Regions from separate parts of the Homo sapiens genome. Here all the other regions are reported to be linked to region 1. Evidence: microRNA targets listed by miRTarBase, many of them from high-throughput screens and not tested one by one. Region 1 holds a microRNA gene; each other region holds the end of a gene's coding sequence.

Region 1 (3,000 bases):
GTGTTCCACACATTTTTTGAAGGAATTTTTACATTAGGGCTTTGTTCTTTTCCTTGAAATTGATAAGAAATAAAATTTTGGGAGACTAATACTGGAAGCAACTTTATTGACCAAGAGTACTCCACAATCTAGCCTTTAGCCTCCATCTTAGTCCATTGTGTGTGCTCCTTTTTGAATTGCTGAAAGTTCCCAGAAGGATGCAATTGGTGGTTCATGTGGCTGAGCGTCAAGAAGATGAATAAAAAGTAGAAATACAGAGTTTGCTCCCTAATAATCCTCTTTCCCAAGGCCTGTGGCTCTTAGAGAGGGCTGCTCTTTCTCCCTTCCCTTTTACCCACCCAGTCCCACTTCCATCTCATTCAGAGTTGGTTAAGGAAGCTCTCTATAGGAGCTCTGAGCAGCAGATGGGCTGTATTTGAATTGTTGTTTTTTCCTTCCCCACAGTAGGTGAAAGTCCTTTACCTTTGTTTCACCAAATTAGATTGGCTTTAACACTGGAAAAAACACTGAGGGGAATTGGTAGGGACACAGATTAAATGCTCTAAGTGGTTCTAATTCATTCAGACTTCCAAGAAGAATTTTGCTAAAAGTCCTTCATAAGAAGCTTTTTAAAGGAAATTTGGTAACCAAGGAGTGAGAAGTGCCATGATATTCTATCAGATATTAAAACCTGGTTATGTGATAAGACTGAATGGTCAATTTCCACAGTGGAAGGAGATTAATAATGGTTGGCCCTTGGCTGGGAGTTTAAGGCTGCAGTGAGTCATGATCAGGTCACTGTACTCCAGCCTGGGCGATAGAGCAAGACTCTGTCTCAAAAAGAACCCCAATAAACAACAAAAAAAGATTGACTCTTGGGAATGACAAAAGAATTGGTTATTTTCAGCATCTTATTCAAAGTGGCAGCTTCTTTAATAATAATGACTATAGGGTGTCTGATAGAAAAAAATTACTTTTCACCTTTAGTGTTGATTTATGCATTATGAATGCATACTTGTCCTATATTCTCAAGATTCAGCAATCAGAATAGATAAGCAAGTATACATTTGTGTAGCAAATATACATCTATTTGAATCATGATTTTTTGGAGTGGGCTTGCTTTTAAGTAAGTGCCACAGATTAAAATAGGTTGTTAGAATTTATTTCTGTGTTAATTATGTTCATATTAGGATTTCAGATTTTTGTGTTACGGTCTTTGTTCTTAAGGGCTAATTTATTTACTTAAGGGCTAATCAATAATGAATACTGTCCCTTTTTTTCTGACATATTTTCCTCAAGACTCATTAAATAACTTCTTTAAATTCTTGGTTGTAAGTTACAGAAATTCAACTCTAGCTAGCTTAAGTAAAAATAATTGTTTGACTCATGTAACCAGTCTGCCAAAGGAATAGGCATGTATGTGGAATGTCACCTGTGTGTTTTCTCTGCATGCCCTCTTCATTGTTCTGCTGAAGACTGGTCTCTTCATGTGTGAGGGAGGAGGTTGGGTATTGAGGGAAAACAGGGGGCATAGGCTATGTCTACATCTTTCCACCTTTACAGAAGAAAATAATCTTTTTTTTTTTCATAATTCAGAAATCTAGGGTTAGGAGCTAGATTGAGCCAGGTTGGGTATGATAATCATCAATAAAACTATCTGGTTGGGGCAGGGGGCGTGGTATAGGGAGGAAGAACAGTCATGTCCAGAAAAGAGTGAGTTTGTAAGACACATTTTCCGGAGGTTTTGTTTCGTTTTCTGTTTGGTTGTTTATATATTCTAGATATTAATTCTTCTTGTCTGTTAGATATCTTCTCCCAATTGGGGATTTGTCTTTTTCCTTTGTTTATAGTGTCTTTGTTATAAAGAAATTAAAAATCGTAATGCAAAACAATTTCTCAATTTCTCAGTATTTTTTGTTATGTGATTTTTTTTTTTTTTTTTTGAGACAGGCTCACTCTGTTTTCCAGGCTGGAGTGCAGTGGTGTGATCTCAGCTCACCACAACCTTTGCCTCCTAGGTTCAAGTGAGTCTCCTGCCTCAGCCTCCCAAGTACCTGGGATTACAGGTGTGTGCCACCACACCTGGCTAATTTTTGCATTTTTAGTAGAGATGGGTTTTCACCATGTTGGGTCAGGCTGGTCTGGAATTCCTGACCTCAAGTGATCTGCCTGCCTTGGCCTCCCAAAGTGCTGGGATTACAGCCGTGAGCTACTCTGCCCGGCCTGTTATGTGATTTTTGATGCAAGAAAATTTTTTTTCCATCCCAGTGTTCTAAGAGAATCTCCTATGTTTTCTTCTTTAACCCGTCGAAAGTCCATTTTTATATATGGTATTAACTGAGGATCTAATTTTATCTTTCTTCTATATAGTCTGTTGGCTCAGGCTGTTTATTGAATCCTTTTTCTACTGATTCATGATGCTATTTTGGTCACACAGCAACTTATCACATATGCATGGATCTGTTTCTGAGCTCTTTATTTTGTTTTAATGGTGTTATTTGTACCTGCACCCAAACCATGCTGTTTTAACTCCTGTAACTTTATAATACATCTTGATAGGAGGTGAAGAGATTCTCTCATCTTGCTATTCAAAATTGTCTTTGTGGCCAGGCATGGTGGCCCACGCCTGTAATCCCAGCACTTTGGGAGGCTGAGGTGGGCAGATCACGTGAGGTCAGGAGATTGACACCATCCTGGCCAACATGGTGAAACTCCATCTCTACTAAAAATACAAAATTAGATGGGTGTGGTGGTGCATGCCTGTAATCCCAGCTAGCTCAGAGGCTGAGGCTGGAGAATCACTTGAACCTTCAATAGCTAATTGATTGAATTTAAGAGAATTATCTTTGCAATGTTGTGTTCTTATCTGTGAACCTAATATTCCTTTCATTTATTAAAATCTTCATTTGTGTCCTTTGATAATGCTTAGCAATATATATAGTCCTTAGAGGTATCATATGTATTTTGTTAGATTTATTTCTGGGTATTTCATTTTTTTGTTGTTGTCTTTTAAAACAGTAG
Region 2 (3,000 bases), not on the chromosome of region 1:
AAAAAATACTAAAAAGCCAGTTTTCTGTGGCCAACCTGTTAACTTTTATTGGAATGCTCCTGTGTTTAGGGTTGTAGTTTCTTGATATGGCAGAGACAGTGTGCATTCTCATTTCTGGTATGCATTTAATCTTTCAGTGTTTGCTTACCCCCCTCCCACTTTTAGCTTCCATGATTAGATGTATTTTTTGCCAAAACTCATGTGACATTTGAATCATTTCCAATTCCACTGCAACTCACCTGTTTTCTTGTGAAAGCCCTGCAGTCACAATTATCTTAACCTCCTTAAAATGAGTCATTCCTGCTCTTCTGTCCATTTAAAAGTATTTTCCTTCTTATTATCTTTTGACTCTCTCCCTAAGTTTCCTTCGGATAAGCTTTTCTTCTGATAAGATCCCAAACACTAGCATATAGCTTATGTTTGTAAAGTATAAACTAAATTGTCAGTCACTGCAAGTGTTCTTATTGTTTTCCCAGGTTTTCGCTTTAGACCCAGTCCTGGGCACCTTTCTGATCCTCACCAGTGTCATCTTGATGGTACTTGTGGTAATTAATCTTTTCGTTTCGGCCATTCTCATGGCCTTTGGAAAAGAAAGAAAGTCGCTTAAGGTAGGTAACTAAAAGATAAACTAGCATGCTGTTATATCACTGGGAAAGCTCCACTGTAACTGCCCCTAAGATGACGGGCTGACATAATTTATAATGCACAGTATCATATTCCCTTTATTAGTTTCAAAAGCTCTGCCAGCTATCTTCCTAGGAAACCCAATTTATAAGACTACATAATATTCTATAGCCATTGTCCTATAAATAGTTGGCTCGCAACCATTAGTGGAAACACTCCAATGCCTGACTGCAAATTATTAAAGAAATAGTATCTTTACATTTACTAATTTTTTAAAAATCTTTGGTACTTTTTTTACTCCACTATTAGCAGTAATTTCAATTTTCTCACTTTTCTCTTTTTGTCTTCAATACTCAGAAAGAAGCTGCACTAATAGATACACTGCTACAGAAGCTCTCAAATTTGTTAGGAATCAGTTGGCCCCAAAAAACCTCATCTGAGCAAGCAGCCACGACAGCAGTGGGCAGTGACACTGAAGTTTTAGATGAACTACCTTAATCCTGTTATCTCCTACTTGGCTTAGTATTTATTAGCGTATTACTACTTATCTTTGCATGGCATAGCTTTAAAATTATAATATACTTTGTTTTTAATTCTGTAAGTTAGGAATCAAAATCCCCTTGGTCCCAAGTTCTTATGGATCTTGGCACTGTCAAGATAGGATTAACAATGCAAGAATACTACGAGACAAACTAGCTCTGCTGCCAAGCAGCAAGTAACAGAACTCACCACCCATGGCCCAGGATGGCTGCGGGAAATGAAGCAGTCAGAAGTGAGCTCACTGCAACTTACTAAAAATAAACATCCAAGGATGAGGCATGGCAGATGCGGAGCCCTGCCACTGAGGAAGACCAAGGAAATTCACAGATGCTATCTGGGCTATCTAAATACAGAGATCAAAATGAGCTCTGTACTGCTCCAGGAATCCTGAAACTAAGGGCTGGTTTACATGGATCACTTGGTTAAAATATTCTCCACTAAAATCCAGATTTATACTTCATCATCTGACCAAACAGTAGAGAAAGCAGGACACAGGATCTTTAACTTTATTAGCAGCTACTGAGCTACAGAATACAAACCAACTGAAAACATTAAAGAAAGGCTGCCTGAAACAAGTATGTACAGGTATACTACACAGAAGCAAAAGCTGTATCATCCAATCCCAAAGCCACCCCTGTGGGGAAGGATGACCTTAGCTATGGGCCAAAGGAGTAACAGAAGTTATGACATAAGAGTCCCATCCATCCAGGAAAGCAGTGAACAACTACAGCTGCATGGGCACCAAAAATTTTTCTGAGATTAGTTTTAAAGGTTCCATGAATCAAAGTTTTCAAATGAAAACAGGTACCCCTCTTTTCCTGTAGGCTTTCCAGCTCACTACCCAAAAGACTTGAGTACTTCTATTAAGGCAGCTGGAAGCCCACCCTAGGACTTGAATGGCACCTTGTCCTTTCTCTGCCAGTAATGCAATCCAACACAATATGCTACAGGGAAAACAGAATTTCCACGGTGCCGCCCTCTGGTACAAGGGAAACAGCACGCAAAGCAAAAGGCCACAGAGGGCTCCCTGAGAATCCAGTACAACTAAGCGAGGCCTTCAACTGTCAAGACAAACTTTGCAACTGGATCCCGGTGGGACAGTGCCCTGCAGCGAGGAGTACTGTATATGCCAATGAGAGGGCCCAGCTTCCAGGAACCGTTACAATGGCGTCCCGAGTCATTTTCCCTCTCCCACTTGCATTCGAGAGTGAGAAAACACACAAGGTGGCCTTGATTCTCACTCACCACAATCCCCCTGTACAGAGGGGTCTGTTTCTAAGTCTGGAACCTCAACACGAGGCTGGGATGCTTCACAACGTGCTCTCTCCCACTGTCCAGCCATCTTTGGTGGTCTTCCCACAGTGCTTCCCCCATCCTCTCACACTCCTGTGGAGGGACCATGGGACGGGCCAGGAGGAAACCTGGGATCACTCTGACAGGAAACGGACAAGCACAGCTGCCAGGAGCCAGTTGCTCTGGCCTCAGTCTCCAATTGTTAGTCTCAGGATCAACAGAGAACTGGAAAGCAGCAGAATCTGGAGGAGCAGGAAGAGAGCCCAGAGGGAGTGTTGTGCTGAGTGACGGTTAACAGATGAAACAGAATTTCATGGAGATTCTTTGTTACAAGGAGAAATTGCTCAGTCTCAACTCCCAAAACGTGAAAGTTGCCTGGTTTAAGAGACCTATGTTTTCTTTTTCAGCTCTTCAAACCTCCGGGAAAGATCATCAAAGTCAATGTCTTCAGATGCTGAGGTGCTGGCACCAGCAGATGCAGTTGGTAGTGTGTCTGGCACAGATGGCAACTCTGGTAGGACAAAGTTGTCATAGTTATCTGCA
Region 3 (7,936 bases), not on the chromosome of region 1:
GGAGAATTGCTTGAACCTGGGAGGCGGAGGTTGCGGTGAGCCAAGATCACACCATTGCACTCCAGCCTGGGCAACAAGAGCGAAACTCCGTCTCAAAAAAAAAAAAAAAAGAAAATTAGAGATGGTATCAACATGGGAGAGGTAACTTGATAAATTAACACTGAGGAATTTACTTGGTAAAGGGGGATAATATAAATTTTGAAAGCTTAAGGAATTGACAGAAAAATAAACATAAGAATAGGTCTTAATCATTAAAGAGTAACCACCAGAATAATCCCAGCTGCCATGCTTGGCTAATTTTTTATTTTTATTTTTTGTAGAGATGGGGGTCTCACTATTGTTGCCCAGACTGGTCTCGAGCTCTTGGGCTCAAGTAATCCTCTCGCCTCAGCCTCCCATAGTGCTGGGATTACAGGCGTGAGCAACCACGCCCAGCCATGTGAGAGTTTTAATTCCTCTACAGCCTCATCAACACTAGTTTTCTTTTTTTTTCTTTTTTCTTTTCATTTATTTATTTATTTATTTATTTATTTATTTATTTATTTATTTTGAGACAGAGTCTGGCTCTGTTGCCAGGCTGGAGTGCAGTGGCGAGATCTTGGCTCACTGCAACCTCCTCCTCCTGGGTTCAAGTGATTCTCTTGCCTCAGCCTCCCATGTAGCTGGGATTACAGGCGTGTGCCACCACACCCGGCTAATTTTTGTATTTTTAGTAGAGATGGGGTTTCACCATATTGGCCAGACTGGTCTTGAACTCCTGACCTCAGGTAATCCGCCCGCCTCGGCCTCCCAAAGTGTTGGGATTACAGGTGTGAGCTACTGCGCCCAGCCAATTTGTGTATTTTTAGTAGAGACAGAGTTTTGCCATGTTGGCCAGGCTGGTCTCAAACTCCTGGCCTCAAGTGATCCACCCACTTTGGCCTCCGAAAGTGCTGGGATTACAGATGTGAACCACTGCCCCCGGCCTACAGAGAGCAGTTTTATTAATCAAATGCTAACAGTTGAGATATGGCCAGACTCATGCCTTTAAAAGACTGTTCCAGCTTTTTGGGCTCAGTGAAGAGATTTCATAAGAAAAACTTGGCATGGGAAACATATGGGAGTGGTACAGGAGGGTATCTATGTGTCTTGTTCCGATAGCTCTCTTGAGTAATTTCTTGTCTGGAAGCCCAGTTGGCATCATCTTGACTTCTACCTGGTGGTTTTGGATTAATTGGTCGTGACTCCCCCTAAACAGGAGGATTCGGTAGCTGAAGGGGTGGGTTGCTCCTCCACACCTGTGGGTGTTCCTTGTTAGGTGGAACGAGAGACTTGGAAAAGAAAGAGACACAGACAAAGTACAGAGAAAGAAATCGGGGGACCAGGGGACCGGCGCTCAGCATATGGAGGATCCCGCCGGCCTCTGAGTTCCCTTAGTATTTATTGATCATTATTGGGTGTTTCTCGGAGAGGGGGATGTGGCAGGATCATAAGATAATAGTGGAGAGAAGGTCAGCAGGTAAACACGTGAACAAAGTTCTCTGCATCATAAACAAGGTAAAGAATTAAGTGCTGTGCTTTAGATATGTATACACATAAACATCTCAATGCCTTACAGAGCAGTATTGCTGCCCGCATGTCCCACCTGCAGCCCTAAGGCAGTTTCCCCCTATCTCAGTAGATGGAATATACAATCGGGTTTTACATCGAGACATTCCATTGCCCAGGGACGAGCAGGAGACAGATGCCTTCCTCTTGTCTCAACTGCAACGAGGCGTTCCTTCCTCTTTTACTAATCCTCCTCAGCACAGACCCTTTACGGGTGTCGGGCTGGGGGACGGTCAGGTCTTTCCCTTCCCACGAGGCCATATCTCAGGCTATCACATGGGGAGAAACCTTGGACAGTACCTGGCTTTCCTAGGCAGGGGTCCCTGCGGCCTTCCGCAGTGTTTTGTGTCCCTGGGTACTTGAGATTCCTTCAAGCATTTGTTTAGCAAAGCACATCTTGCACAGCCCTTAATCCATTTAACCCTGAGTTGACACAGCACATGTCTCAGGGAGCACAGGGTTGGGGGTGGGGTTACAGATTAAAATGGAGTCTCTTATGTCTACTTTCTATACAGACACATTACCAATCTGATCTCTCTTTCTTTTCCCCACAGGTAGCTGGGTCTTTATTCCTGGCTTGTTTCAAAATTAGCCCCTGGCTGAACAGGATGGCTCATGCTTGTAATCCCAACACTGGGAGGCACAGGCAGGAGGATTTTTTTTTTTTTTTTGAGATGGAGTCTTGCTCTGTCACCCAGGCTGGAGTGCAGTGAGTGATCTCCGCTTGCTGCAAGCTCCGCCTCCCGAGTTCATGCCATTCTCCTGCCTCACCTTCCCAAGTAGCTGGGACTACAGGCACCTGCCACCATGCCCGGCTAATTTTTTTGTATTTTTAGTAGAGATGGGGTTTCACCGTGTTAGACAGGATGGTCTCGATCTCCTGACCTGGTGATCTGCCTGCCTCGGCCTCCCAAAGTGCTAGGATTTCAGGCATGAGCCACTGCGCCCAGCCCCACTACGCCCAGCTATTTTTTGTATTTTTAGTAGAAATGGGGTTTTGCCATGTTGGCCAGGCTGGTCTTGACCTGAGGTATCCTGACTGGGATTACAGGCGTGAGCCACTGGGCCTGGCTATTTGTTTTTTTTGAGAGAAGTCTTGCTCTTATCCCCCAGGTTTGAGTGCAATGGCTTGATCTCCACTCACTGCAACCTCTGCCTCCCAGGTTCAAATGATTCTCCTGCCTCTGCTTCCCAAATAGCTGGGATTAAATCGCCTGCCACCAAGCCCGGCTAATTTTTGTATTTTTTAGTAGAGACTGGGTTTCACCATGTTGGCCAGGCTGGTCTCGAACTGCTGACTTCAGGTGATCCGCCCGCCTCGGCCTCCCAAAGTGCTGGGATTACAGGTGTGAGCCACTGCGCCCGGCCGGGCCTGGCTATTTTTTATTTTTATTTTTGAGGCAGAGTCTCGCTCTGTTGCCCAGGCTGGAGTGCAGTGGCATGACCTCAGCTCACTGCAACTTCTGCCTCCTGGGTTCAAGTAATTCTCAAGCCTCAGCCTCCTAAGTAGCTGGGACTACGGGCACACACCACCACACCCGGCTAATTTTTTGTATTTTAGTAGACATGGTGTTTCGCCATGTTGCCCAGGGTGGTCTCAAACTTCAGAGCTCAGGCAATCCACTCACCTCGGCTTCCCAAAGTGCTAGGATTACAGATGTGAGCCACCATCCCTGGCCAAAATAAATATTTTAAAAATATTTGGTAGAATTCACCAGTGAAGCCATCTAGTCCCGATTTTTTTTTTTTTTTTTTTTTTTTTTTGAGACGGAGTCTTGCTCTGTTGCCAGGTTGGAGTGCCGTGGCCCAGTCTTGGCGCACTGCAACCTCTGTCTCCTGGGTTCAAGTGATTCTCCTTCCTCGGCCTCCTGAGTAGCTGGGATTACAGGTGCCCACCACCACGCCAAGCTAATTTTTGTATTTTTAGTACAGACAGGGTTTCACTGTGTTAGCCAGGCTAGTCTCAAACTTCTGACCTTGTGATCTGCCTGCCTCAGCCTCCCAAGGTGCTGGGATTACTAGCCCGAGCCACCGTGCCTGCCCCCCACCTCCCCACCCTTTTTTTTTTTGAGACAGAGTTTCGCTCTTGTCGCCCAGGCTGGTCTCAAACTGTTGACTTCAGGTGATCCGCCTGCCTCGGCCGCCCAAAGTGTTGGGATTACAGGCTTGAGGCAAGGCGCGCCGGGCCTTTTTTTTTTTTTTTTGAGTCGGGGTCTCTCCCTCCCAGGCTGCAGTGCAGTGGTGCGATCATAATCTACTGCAGCTTTGAACTCCTAGTTTCAAGTGATCCTCCTGCCTCTGCCTCCTGAGTAGCTAGGACTACTATTTTTTGTAGAGATGAGGTCTGGCTATGTTGTCTCAAACTCCTGGCCTCAAGCGATCCTTCCACTCCTGCCTCCCCAAACACTGGTATTACAGCCATGAGTCACTGCACTTAGCTTCGCCTTTTTTTTTTAGAGCACTTTTAGGTTCACAGCAAAATTGAGGGGAAAATACAGAGTTCCCGTATATTCCCTTCCTCCATACACTCACAGCTTCCCCCATAATAAACACTTCACACCAGAGGTCTACAGGTGTTACATCTGAGGAACCTACACTGACTCATCATATTTGCCCAAAGTCTACACTTTCAGTTGTCTTGGTGTTGCACATTCTATAGGTTTTGACAAATGTATATGTACCCACCATTATGGTGTCATACAGAACTTTGGGTGATTGTAACAAATGTACCACTCTGGGGGAGATTGAGTATGTGGGGACAGGAGGTATATGGCAACTCTGTACCTCCTGCTCAATTCTGCTGTGAATCTGAAACTGTCTAAAAGTCATCCAAAAAAAAAAAAACAAAAACCCAAAACTTCCACATTCAAAACTTATCTGACTTGTTCAACTTTTAGAGAAAAAAGACAACCCTTCGTGGTTATTTTTTTTGTGTGTGACAGAGTCTAGCTGTCGCCCAGGCTGGAGTGCAGTGGCACGATCTCAGCTCACTGCAACCTCATCCTCCCGGGTTCAATTGATTTTCCTGTCTCAGCCTCCTGAGTAGCTGGGACTACAGGCGGGTGCCACCATGTCCGGCTGATTTTTTGTATTTTTAGTAGAGACGGAGTTTCACTGTGTTAGCCAGGATGGTCTCGGATCTCCTGACCTCATGATCCGCCTGCCTTGGCCTCCCAAAGTGCTAGGACTACAGGCGTGAGCTACTACACCCGGCTGGGCCTTCATGGTTATTAAATGTAAATACAACGGGGCCAAGCTCAGTGGCTCATACCTGTAATCCCAGCACTTTGGGAGGCCAAGGCAAGCAGATCATTTGAGTCCAGGAGTTCAAGACCAGCCTGAGCAACATAGTGAAACCCCGTCTCGACCAGAAAATACAAAAATTAGCCAGGTAGTCCCTGCTACAGGGCTGAGGTGGGAGGATTGCTTGAGCCTGGGAGGTCGCGGCTGCAGTGGGCCAAGATGGCACCATTGCACTCCAGCCTGGGTGACAGAGCAACACCCTGTATACCGTATACAACTGCTTAGATATGTACATGATTAGTGACAAGAGGGATCCTCCCTTGGTAATAGAAAATTTGGGCTAGGCATGCTGCATCCCAAACTGATGAACCGAAACTGCTACAAATGGTCTCTACCAACACATTCCCACGGCTAAGTACGAAGAACAAGGGCGAATGGTCAGAATTAAGCTCAAACCTAGCTGAAGCACTCAACATTGATTCATTCCTTGGACCAATTACTTGCTAAATCTCTATGAACTGGTATCTTATTTGTACAATGAGGTTGCTATTTTAAAAATTAATGTTACCAGCTGGGCCCAGTGGCTCAGGCCTGTAAACCCAGCACTTTGGGAGCCCAAGGCAGGTGGATCGCTTCAGGTCAGTTCCAGACCAGCTTAGCCAACATGGTGAAACCCCGTCTCTACTAAAATACAAAAAAAATTTAGCTGGGTATGGTGGCAGGTGCCTGTAATCCCAGCTACTCAGGAGGCTGGGGCAGTAGAATCACTTGAACCCGGGAGGCGGAGGTTGCAGTGAGCCTGGATCGCATTACTATACTCCAGCCTGGGCAACAGAGCAGGACCCAGTCTCAAAGAAAAAAAAAAAAAAAAAGTACGTTACTTAAAAATGCCTGGGATATAGGAGTCCAAATAATGTTAGCAGTAAAATAAAACCAGTATTTTGTTTCCTTGAAAAAAATACATATACAAATCTCAACTAAGTCCAAAGTGTCAATAACATTTTGATGATGTAATTATTCAAACTTTTTGAGGTTTTCACTGTCACACATGCTGGAGTGCAGTGGCACGATCATAGCTCACTGAAGCCTCGAAGTCCTGGGCCCAAGGGACCCACCCTCCAGCCTCAGTCTCCCAAGTAGCTGGGTCTACAGGCACACATCCCCACACTCAGATACTTTTTTTTTTTTTTTTTGAGACAGAGTCTTGCTGTTGCCCAGGCTGGTCCGACCTCAAGCTATCCTCCCATCTTGGCCTCCCAAAATGTTAAGATGACAGGTATGAGCCACCATGCCTGGCCCAAAATTTTTCTATTTTTAAAAACTCACAGCACAAAAACTGTAGAAAAGAATATTTTATTGAAACAGTTTCTCAATTAACAATGGAGCAAAGTACAATTTGACTCAAACCTGTCCAACCAGCATCAACAGCTACTGAAAGAATTCAAACATACAGAAGAGGTGGGGGTGGGGTGAGGGGTGGGACCCTTAGGTCCCATCTCTGCCAATGTGGCAAAAAAAAAAAAAAAAGGAAAAGACAAAATGACTGACACAGCCAGGTTCATTCTTGTCTTGGAGCTGAGGCAGCAGCCCTAGCTCCTGCTACAGACGGAATACTGGAGGACGGGCTCCCTAGGCGTAGGTATGGTGGGTCGGGGGCCCCCAACCTAGCAGAGTGATGCACAGAGGAAGGCCAGCCCTGACCCTCCTCCTTCATCCACAGGCCTGCCTCAGAGAGAGGGAGGTGGCATCTCTACATTCACACCATGGTCTCTCCTTTCCCCAGGATCTTGGGATAGGGACTCACAGTAGAAAGCACATTTTGGTCAGCCCAGGGGGTCAGGGGGTGAGGGAAAGGCTCTGTCTGGGAGGAGCAGAACAGCAGAAGAGAGGAGGAGGCAGGGAGTTACAGGAACCTGGGGTACCAGGCTGCTGGGAAGATGCAGATTATGACAGAGCTTGCACGATGCTGGCACCCCATGCCAACCACTCTACGTGGCTTTCCTCTTCGGAGAGGTGGTGGGCTCCCTTCTTCACTGTGCCCCTCCCTCCTCTGGCCACTAGGGGTGGGAAATACGAGTGAGAATCCTTCCAGATTTACTTCCGCCAATCCAGAGGTACAGGCTTTTAGGCAAGGGGCAGAGAACTGCCCAATTTGCTGCAGGAAGCCAAGGAAACCCAGGGGGAAAGGAGCTGGATGGGAATGGGGAAGGGAGGCTCAGAGCAAGAGAAGCCCGCAGAGGGAGGAAAGAGCACAGATAGGCACTCAGAAACCAAACCTGGTAACTGAGGCTCTGCAGACACTGGCCTGAAAGGATGCTCATCGCATGGTGGGAGAGGAAGGGAGGGAAGGAACAATCACCAGAGAAGAGTGGAAACTCCCCAGCAACCTGATACCCTTCCCATCACCGGGACCCATCAGCCACTGGCAGCCATTCTCTTCCTACCCACAGGCAAAGGATTCAGAAATTAATAGTGATTTTTCCCAAATTTAGGGCCTATATGGGTAGGGAACAGGGAGTGGGGCTGGGGAGGAGAACAGTTTCCATTTTTAACCACAGAGGTACTGCAGAAGGAACCAGTGAGCTGTCCCTCCCTTCCCCTTCTCCACACCTCCAAATCACAGGGGTGAGAAAGGAACTCCAGCCGAGGGCAGGACCAACCCCTCCCCCAACCCTCGATGTTAAATAAATAGAAGTGGTGGGGGAAGGGGGTGGAGATGAATGGGGAAAACAGAGGTGGGGGTTATAGTTCGTCGTTCTTCAAAGGCCGCTTCTGTCCTGTCGATTGTTCTTTCTGTTCAGGTTCTGTTGGGAGTTTGGGGGAGCAAAGGAATCACCGCAGGTGAAACAGAGGAACCAACCCCAGTTCTTTGCAAAGGATTTCCTGAGACCCCACCAGGCTTCCCACCGTAGCCCCGGCTCCATCCTCACCTGCTCCAGGACCTCCTAACTCCAAAGGCTCAGTGTCTCCTGGCTCGGATCCTGCTTTGGGAAGAAACAGGTTAGTCTCCTCAGAAGGGAGGAAGAGGCTAAGGGAAGGCTGGGCCAGTTTTTCCATGAAGAGCCAGCTAGTAAATATTTTAGGATGCATGTACCACATTTGGTCT
Region 4 (7,936 bases), not on the chromosome of region 1:
GGAGCTCGTGTAGGCCACCCCATCGGTAGCCCACCCCCTTCCCCGAGGCTAAGGGAGGCATGCCGTGGTAGCGGCGGCTCCTGGTCTTACATGAGTGGCCTGTGAGACCAGGCCTGCCATTGACAGTCCTGCCAAGTCTCCGTCCCCCTCCATCCTCCCCTTCCCTCTGACTCTTCTCTTTTCCCAGCCTACCTCTCCTCTCCCCTGGCCCTGCCCAGCCAGAGGAGGAGCCCCCCCGAGGAGCCACCTGACTTCTGCTGTCCCAAGTGCCAGTATCAGGCCCCTGATATGGACACCCTGCAGATACATGTCATGGAGTGCATTGAGTAGGGCCGGCCAGTGCAAGGCCACTGCCTGCCGAGGACGTGCCCGGGACCGTGCAGTCTGCGCTTTCCTCTCCCGCCTGCCTAGCCCAGGATGAAGGGCTGGGTGGCCACAACTGGGATGCCACCTGGAGCCCCACCCAGGAGCTGGCCGCGGCACCTTACGCTTCAGCTGTTGATCCGCTGGTCCCCTCTTTTGGGGTAGATGCGGCCCCGATCAGGCCTGACTCGCTGCTCTTTTTGTTCCCTTCTGTCTGCTCGAACCACTTGCCTCGGGCTAATCCCTCCCTCTTCCTCCACCCGGCACTGGGGAAGTCAAGAATGGGGCCTGGGGCTCTCAGGGAGAACTGCTTCCCCTGGCAGAGCTGGGTGGCCGCTCTTCCTCCCACCGGACACCGACCCGCCCGCCGCTGTGCCCTGGGAGTGCTGCCCTCTTACCATGCACACGGGTGCTCTCCTTTTGGGCTGCATGCTATTCCATTTTGCAGCCAGACCGATGTGTATTTAACCAGTCACTATTGATGGACATTTGGGTTGTTTCCCATCTTTTTGTTACCATAAATAATGGCATAGTAAAAATCCTTGTGCATTAGTCGTGCGTATCTTTGGCATAGATTCTGAGAAGTGACACCACTGAGCATGGGCGATGGCGTAGATGGTACCTGAGCCCCCTTCCTCCTTGGAGCTTGGTTTCCCATCTCTCCCCACCCCCTATTTCCCTAGCCTTGCCAAGGAGGAGGTGGGAAAGCCCGTTTGGGTTTTTGTCATTCGCTAGGCCATGCAGTTCTCTGTTAAGAGTGAGCTTAAACATCTTTCCTGAGGCTTTAAGGACCTTTTTTAGTTCTGCTTCTGAATGGGCTGCTCATATCATATATATATATGTATATGTATAGTTGTGTATATGTATGTGTGTGTGTGTGTGTGTGTGTGTATTTTTTTTTTTTTTTGAGACAGAGTTTTGCTCTTCTCGCCCAGACTGGAGTGCAGTGGCGTGATCTCAGCTCACTGCAACCTCTGCCTCCTGCGTTCAACCTATTCTCCTGCCTCAGCCTCCCTAGTAGCTGGGACTACAGGCGCCTGCCACCACGCTCGGCTAATTTTTGTATTTTTAGTAGAGATGGGGTTTCACCATGTTGGCCAGGCTGGTCTCGAACTCCTGACCTCACGTGATCCACCTGCCTTGGCCTCCCAAAGTGCTGGGATTACAGGTGTGAGCCACTGTACCTGGCCAATTTTTGTATTTTTAGTAGAGATGGGGGTTTCAGCACTTTGGCCAGGCTGGTCTCAAACTCCTGACCTCAGGTGATCTGCCTGCCTCGGCCTCCCAAAGTGCTAGGATTACAGGTGTGAGCCACTGCGCCCCGCTGGGCTGCTCATATCTTTTATCCGTTTTTCTACTGGGTTATCTTTTGTTGCTCAGCTTTTAGAAACTCTTTGTCCATGAGCAGGATTGGGTTTGTGGCTGTGATAGAAATTGCAGATATCTTTTCCTGCTTTGACCTCGCTACTAGTGTTTCTTTGTTTTTTGTTTTGAGATAAGGTCTCTGTCACCCGGGTGGGAGTGTAGTGGCACAATCAGAGCTCACTGCAGCCTTGACCTCCTGAGCTCCAGCAGTCCTCCTGCCTCGGCCTTGCGAGTAGCTGGGATCACAGGCGTGCGCCACCACACCCTGCTAAACTACTGGTGCTTCTCAGCCTCGAAGTTTTTTTTTCTTTATGTAGTCACATTTATCCATTTTTTCCCCCTTTTACTGCTTTGACTTTGGAGTCGTCGTGACCACCTTGTGGTCTGTGGGAGGGATGCTTCACACATGAGCACTTTTCTTTTTCTAACACCGAAGCGTGCTCTTGTCTTCACCAAGAGTGTTGTTGCCCAGTGTGACTGGTGATGGCTGTTTCATCATATTCCAGAAGTTTGTGATGCCATTTCCCACACTGGCCCCAATTAGGAAGAACAGACGACTCTACTTGTTTTGCAAGATTCTGGAAATTTCCCGGGGTGTCAGAGCCCTGGGCATTAACCCTGCAATTGTAGCAAAGGAAACAAAGTTGGAAGTTGACTCCCCAGCACCCGGGCCTTCCTTCCTGCCCTCCTCCAAGCTGCCCTGGTTGGGAACGGGATATTGTGAATCCACCCTGAGGCTTCCTCACAGGGCTTCCTGCTATTTGACAGTGTGAGGCTGGCTAGAATTGGGATATGAGGCCTTCTAAAAATTAACCTGGCCTGAGGGCTTTCTCAGCATCTGGGGGCGGGGTGTGGGGGCGGGGAGTGACCTTTCCCCTTCTTCAAGCCAGGTGCCCATCAGATTCTACTTGGGAAAATGTGAAAGGCACAGACAGCTTGTCTGCTCACGGGTGCTGCACTTAAATCCTAATCTTGCAATTTTTCTACAAGAGCACTTTACATTTTTTTTTTGGAGGGAGGGTGTATGAGTAGACGGTGGCTGCTGTAACAAAGGACTGCACACTTGGGGCTTAAAACAACAGAAACTCCTTCACAGTGTTGGAAGCCACAGTCTGCAATCAAGTTGTCAGCAAGGCTGGTTTCTTTTTTCTTTCTCTTTCTTTCTTTCTTTCTCTTTCTTTCTTTCTTTCTTTCTCTTTCTTTCTTTTTCTTTCTCTTTCTCTTTCTTTCTTTCTTTCTTTTTTCTTTCTTTTCTTTCTCCCTCTCTCTCTCCCTCTCTCTCTCCTCTCTCTCTTTCTCTCTTTCTTTCTTGTTGGATACAGTCTTGCTCTGACACCCAGGCTGGAGTGCAGTGGTGCCATCTCAGTTCACTGCAACTTCCGCCTCCAGGGTTCAAGCAATTCTTGTGCCTCAGCCTCCCGAGTATCTGGGATTACAAGTGCCCGCCACTATGTCCGGCAAGGCTGGTTTCCTCTGCAGGTGCCAAGAGAATCGTTTACAGGTCTCTGTCTTAGCCTCTGCTGGTTGCTTATAGAGCCATCACCCTAGTCTCTGCCTCTGTCATCACACAGTCTCTTCCTCTTCGTCTGTGTCTTCCCTTTTGTCTCATAAAGGACACCAGTCATTGGATGTAGGGCCCACCTGGATAATCCAGAATGATCTCCTCATCTCGGCATTCATTACATCTGCAAAGACCCTTTTCCCAAAGAAGGTCACACCCATAAGATATGCACGTATCTCTTCAGGGCCATCACACAACCCAGTATGGGGACATGTTCCAGTGCACACAGATGAGGGCAAATGCAGCAGCAGTGCCTGGGAGCTGGAAAAACACCCCTGCTTGGGCCCCCTGGACCAACCGAGTCAGAATCTTGGTCTAGACCCACCAGGCATTGGTCTAGACCCACCGCCCTGCCCGGAGGTGGGGCTGCCTCCTCCCTCCTCCGGTAGCACAGTGTAGGGTTGACCATACACCAGACACCAAGGATTTAAAACCATACCATTTGCGCAGAAGTACGGCATTCCAGGGTTTTCCTTTTCGGCTTTACTTAGGTTGAGCTTCCAGAACAACTGGTTGGATTACTCTTGGGAGGGAACCAGCCTGCCTGCCCTATTGGCTGCGGCCCCTTGATCCACAAACGAAGCCCATCCCTGCCGGAGCTTGTGGCGTTCTCTGGTGTTCATGCGCGCTCCCCCTCCTGCCGACCAATGCACAAGAACAGTGCGGGCGACCAGTAAGCACAGTGAGAAAGCATTTCACCCTCATCAGTAACTAAAACAACAGCAAGTCTGACGGCAAGCAAAAAGTGATCTGAAAATGGCAACCGATGAAGCCCTAGGTGAGCGCTCTGCTGGCAAGGTGCAGGACAGCGGCCCTTGCAATGCTGCCCTTTCCGAGGGGGCCATTTGCTGGGATGGAGCAAGCCCGTAGGCAGCGTCCTCAGCCCTGGTGCGTAACCCTAAGAGAGAGTCGGGCACTCAGCGATGACTCTGGCATTGGGAAGGTGCTTCACTTCGTCATTTGTAGCTGCCAAAGGTCGGGGTGAGATAAGAGGCTGCGTATGTAACGATGTGGTCCGGCACAGCTGGCATTTTGAACATCTCCTCACACGCAACATGCCTTGTAGCATGTTGGTGTGAACAGGCCAGGTGACAAACTTATGGATAAAGCGTGACCCCAATAGAGAAGTAAAAGCTCTGAGTGCATACCCTGCTAACATTTGGACGGACGTGAGTAGCTGGGTGGCCAGTAATGAGAAGTTTTCCTTACATGTTAGTACCTTTCCTAAATGCCTATCATTTGCACGCATTCCTTTGATACACAGAGAATACGTCTTCCCACACAGTCGCTCGGGTGGTAACGCAGCTTGGTTTTCTTCTGTGCCAGTGGCAGGGAAGAGCCCGCTGTTGACACAGCCTCTCAGCAAGGCACGGGGCAGGGGCTGACTGTGTCTCCTGGGGCTGCCGTGACCAAGCACCACAGACTGCGGGGCCGAAGCCACAGAAACGCGTGGCCTCCCGCTTCTGGAGGCCTGGAGGCTGAGCTAGCGGTGGTGTCGGCAGGGTGGGCTCCCCGCCAGGGCCGCGAGGGAGCTGCCTTCCAGGCCTCTCCACGGCGCCGGGGGCCGCCGGCTGCACCTCTCCAGCCTCCATCTCCGTCATCCTGTGGCCTTGTCCCCGCGGGCCTCTGTGCCTGTCCTCCTCTTTTGACAAGAACACCGGAGATACACAAAGGTACACAAAAGCGGGCCTTTGTTCAAGCTGGCAAAAGAGATCTTCTTCAGAAACCCCTGCTTGCGGGGGAGAGAGCTGAGCTCCGTTCCCGCCCCAGCAGAGGCGGCCTGGCCTTGCGAAGGGAGAAGGAGGGAGTCGGGAGGGGGCGAGTGCAGGCTCAGGTGAAAGATGACGGGGCAGCCAGCGTCCTTGCCGCGAGGCCAGCCGTGTGTGGGAGCTGCCGGTGCTTACCAAGGTTGGGATGCTTCCGTCCCGTGGAGACTGGGAGACTGGGCCCCGCGCCTCCTGAGGTTTCCGTTTCCAAGGAGTGGCTGCGGGGCCCTCGGGAAAGCCCCTGGGTTGTGGGTGCTACACAGATGTCTCAAAGGGACAGGGTAAGCCCTTTGTAGTAAATGCTGTCAGAAAGGGAGGTCAGGTGTTGGCCGGAACAGACAGTACATGCTCTGGGCAGCCCTGAGCGTTTCCAGACGGGAACTCACTCAAAAGGGGGCTGGGGCGTCCCAGGGGCGCGGCCTTAGGCTCCCAGAGGCCCCGCGAGGTGGTGGCCGGGTGTCTTCGGGCAGGGGTTTGAGTGCAGTGTGCCTGCCGAGAGGTTCTGCAGTTCCGAGCACCATCATTTTCTCCTCCTCAGACCCCTTGGTTCTCCTTCCACGTCCTGGCAGCTGCTTCGCAGGCTCCTTGCTGGTTCCTGTGTCTCCGAGCTGACTCCCGAATTCTCTTCCTCTCCTTGCTCAGACACTGCCCCTTTGTGACCTCGTCCATCTTCAAGGCCTTGATGCTGATGACAGATTTCTGTCTTCCAGTCCTGATCTGTTCCTTCACGAAAATGAGCCCAGTAGCCCGTCCAAGCCAGAAATGGACTTTTAGCCCCCACCCCCTGCCAACTCTGCCCTTTCCCTCATCCCCAGTTGCTTAAACCAAAACGGATTCCTCTTCCTCTCATGATCCAAACTCCTGAGTCCCTTCACCTTTTGCCTACACTATCACAGTGACCTCCTTGCTGCTTTCACACTGGAGAGCGTGGGCTCCCTGTGATCTACTCTCCACATGGCAGCCAGTGTCATCTGGTAAACCTTTGCTGAAACCCTGCCATGCCCTTCAGTTGCCCTGGAAACCTGAACTCATCCTCAGCCTGGCTCGCAGAGCCCTCATGCCGCTGGGACGTCACGTTATGTCCCTCTCCTGCTGGCCCGCTGCACCCAGCCGCACCACATGCCGGCCGCACCTCACACACGCTGGCCTCTTGGCCCTTCCTCGAACACACGGCGCTTGTCCTTGTTGTCCCCTCATCTTTGCATGGCCGATTTCTTTTTCTCATTCAGCTCTAAGTTTAAACTTTCAACAGTTCTAAGCGTATCACCTTCTTCATCTTAAAGTCCTCATCCTAAATCACACTGCACTGTTTTAACTCCCAGCTTGGCAGTCCAAACGGCCTCATTTATTCTGCTTTGTTTTCTCTCTCCTTCCACCAGAGGGAGAGCAGAGGCCTCCTCCAGCTCAGTCAGGCACCATCCCCCGGAACAGCGGTCTCCAACCTTTTTGGCACCAGGGACCGGTTTTGTGGAAGACGAGTTTTCCACAGACGGGGATGGGGCGTGGGATGACGGTTCGGGGATGAAACTCTTCCACTTCAGATCATCAGGCATTAGTCAGATGCTCCTAAGGAGCACACAACCTAGATCCCTCGCACACACAGTTCACAATAGGGTTTGCGCTCCTGTGAGAGTCTGAGGCCGCTGGCTGATCTGACAGGAGGCAGAGCTCAGGCGGTCATGCGAGCAATGGGGAGCAGCTGTACACACAGATGAAGCTTCGCTCGCGTGCCCACCACTCGCCGCCTGCTCTGTGGCTCAGTTCTTAACAGGCCACAGACCAGTATCGGTCCGTGGCCGGGGGGTTGGGGACCCCTGCCCTAGAACGATGCTCGGCACAGCTACACTCGGTGCACATTTCTTGGTGGCCTGAGCTTGTCTTGAGCTCCATCAGGATTTCTCTGTCAATATTTTTGTAGACCATACCCTGTCACCATAAATGGTGCTTGGTAGAAATGACTGTATGCATGTGATAGGGATAACACAGAAAACCCATGGTAGAGAGCATGGCGACTAACTTGGAGGGACTTCTTTTTGTCTTTTTTTTTTTTTTTTTTTTTTTTTTCGTTTTTGCAGAGATGCAGGTATTGTCATGTTGCCTGGGCTGGTCTCAAACTCCTGGGTTCAAGCAATCCTCCCACCTGTGCCTCCCTAAGTGTTGGGATTACAGGCATGAGCCGCTGCCTCCCCGCAGCATGGGGGGACTTCTTATAAGCATTTTTATTTATTTATTTGGAATTCGGATGGATAGATCATGTTGGCCTGATAATGTATGTGCAAGAGCACAGACTCTGGGGTCTCATGGACAAGCCCCACTCTGCCCCTTGCTTAATGTCTCTGAGCCTCAGTTTCCTCATCTGTAACAAGGGCAGAAATGCCATCCGTGTGCAGCAGAGTACCGACGAAAGGATGGATGCAATGCTCTTACGGCAGTGCCCCACCCAAGGCACAAGGAAAAACCACGAAAGCAATTCCAGTTTACACCACGTCCCAAACTGGATTTTCCATTCGACTATAATTCCTCCCAATAAGGGCTCAAAACGTTGTCTAAGGAAAGTCGATTGGTTGTTGCCCAGGGCTGGAGGAGTTGGGGGAAAACGGGGAGTGACTGCTGATGGAGACAGAGTTTCCTTTTGAGATGATGAGAATGTCCTGAAGCTGGTCATGCTGATGGTTGCACGTATCTATGAATATACTAAAAACCATCGAATTGTACACTTTAGACATGTGAATTGTGTAGCATGTGAATTAAACCTCAAGTCGTTATTTTAAAAATGTTGTCTAAGACACCTGGGCGCCTCCTGTAAGCTCCCATGAAAATGCAAATGAAGACACAGAAGAAGACCAACATTGAACATTTACATCCTCTCCTAAAGCTATGT

Evidence for each region. Region 1 holds the annotated microRNA hsa-miR-6133 (UGAGGGAGGAGGUUGGGUA, at 1,472-1,490, shown strand). A microRNA usually pairs through its seed, bases 2 to 8, with sites in the 3' UTR of a target mRNA and lowers its output. Matches are read on the target gene's strand: a 7mer-m8 pairs with bases 2 to 8, a 7mer-A1 pairs with bases 2 to 7 and ends in A, and an 8mer does both.
Region 2: the mRNA of IST1 is a reported target of hsa-miR-6133. Seed matches in the 3' UTR shown: 7mer-m8 at 2,724-2,730.
Region 3: miRTarBase lists HYOU1 as a target of hsa-miR-6133. Seed matches in the 3' UTR shown: 7mer-m8 at 7,067-7,073, 7mer-A1 at 6,675-6,681 and 7mer-m8 at 6,565-6,571.
Region 4: the mRNA of IKBKG is a reported target of hsa-miR-6133. Seed matches in the 3' UTR shown: 7mer-m8 at 608-614.

The regions. Positions count from the first base shown.
Region 1 is chr7:133,289,480-133,292,479 of GRCh38, forward strand. MIR6133 (microRNA 6133) reads left to right here and starts at 1,402; the gene lies at 1,402-1,509. The region is part of intron 3 of EXOC4 (exocyst complex component 4); the gene reads left to right.
Region 2 is chr16:71,927,660-71,930,659 of GRCh38, reverse strand. IST1 (IST1 factor associated with ESCRT-III) reads right to left here. Exons shown (of 10, transcript NM_001270975.2): 10 at 1-3,000. The coding sequence ends at 2,847. It overlaps PKD1L3 (polycystin 1 like 3, transient receptor potential channel interacting), which reads left to right. Exons shown (of 30, transcript NM_181536.2): 29 at 477-608; 30 at 982-1,122. The coding sequence ends at 1,122. Among named protein-coding and RNA genes, the nearest start is that of IST1, 34 kb to the right of the region's middle.
Region 3 is chr11:119,038,021-119,045,956 of GRCh38, forward strand. HYOU1 (hypoxia up-regulated 1) reads right to left here. Exons shown (of 26, transcript NM_006389.5): 25 at 7,761-7,811; 26 at 6,168-7,634. The coding sequence ends at 7,573. It overlaps HYOU1-AS1 (HYOU1 antisense RNA 1), which reads left to right and starts at 6,168. Exons shown (of 2, transcript NR_186315.1): 1 at 6,168-6,725; 2 at 7,365-7,473.
Region 4 is chrX:154,564,132-154,572,067 of GRCh38, forward strand. IKBKG (inhibitor of nuclear factor kappa B kinase regulatory subunit gamma) reads left to right here. Exons shown (of 10, transcript NM_001099857.5): 10 at 188-902. The coding sequence ends at 330. FAM223A (family with sequence similarity 223 member A) reads left to right here and starts at 7,117. Exons shown (of 1, transcript NR_027401.2): 1 at 7,117-7,829. RefSeq lists enhancers at 1-370, 371-870, 5,639-6,438.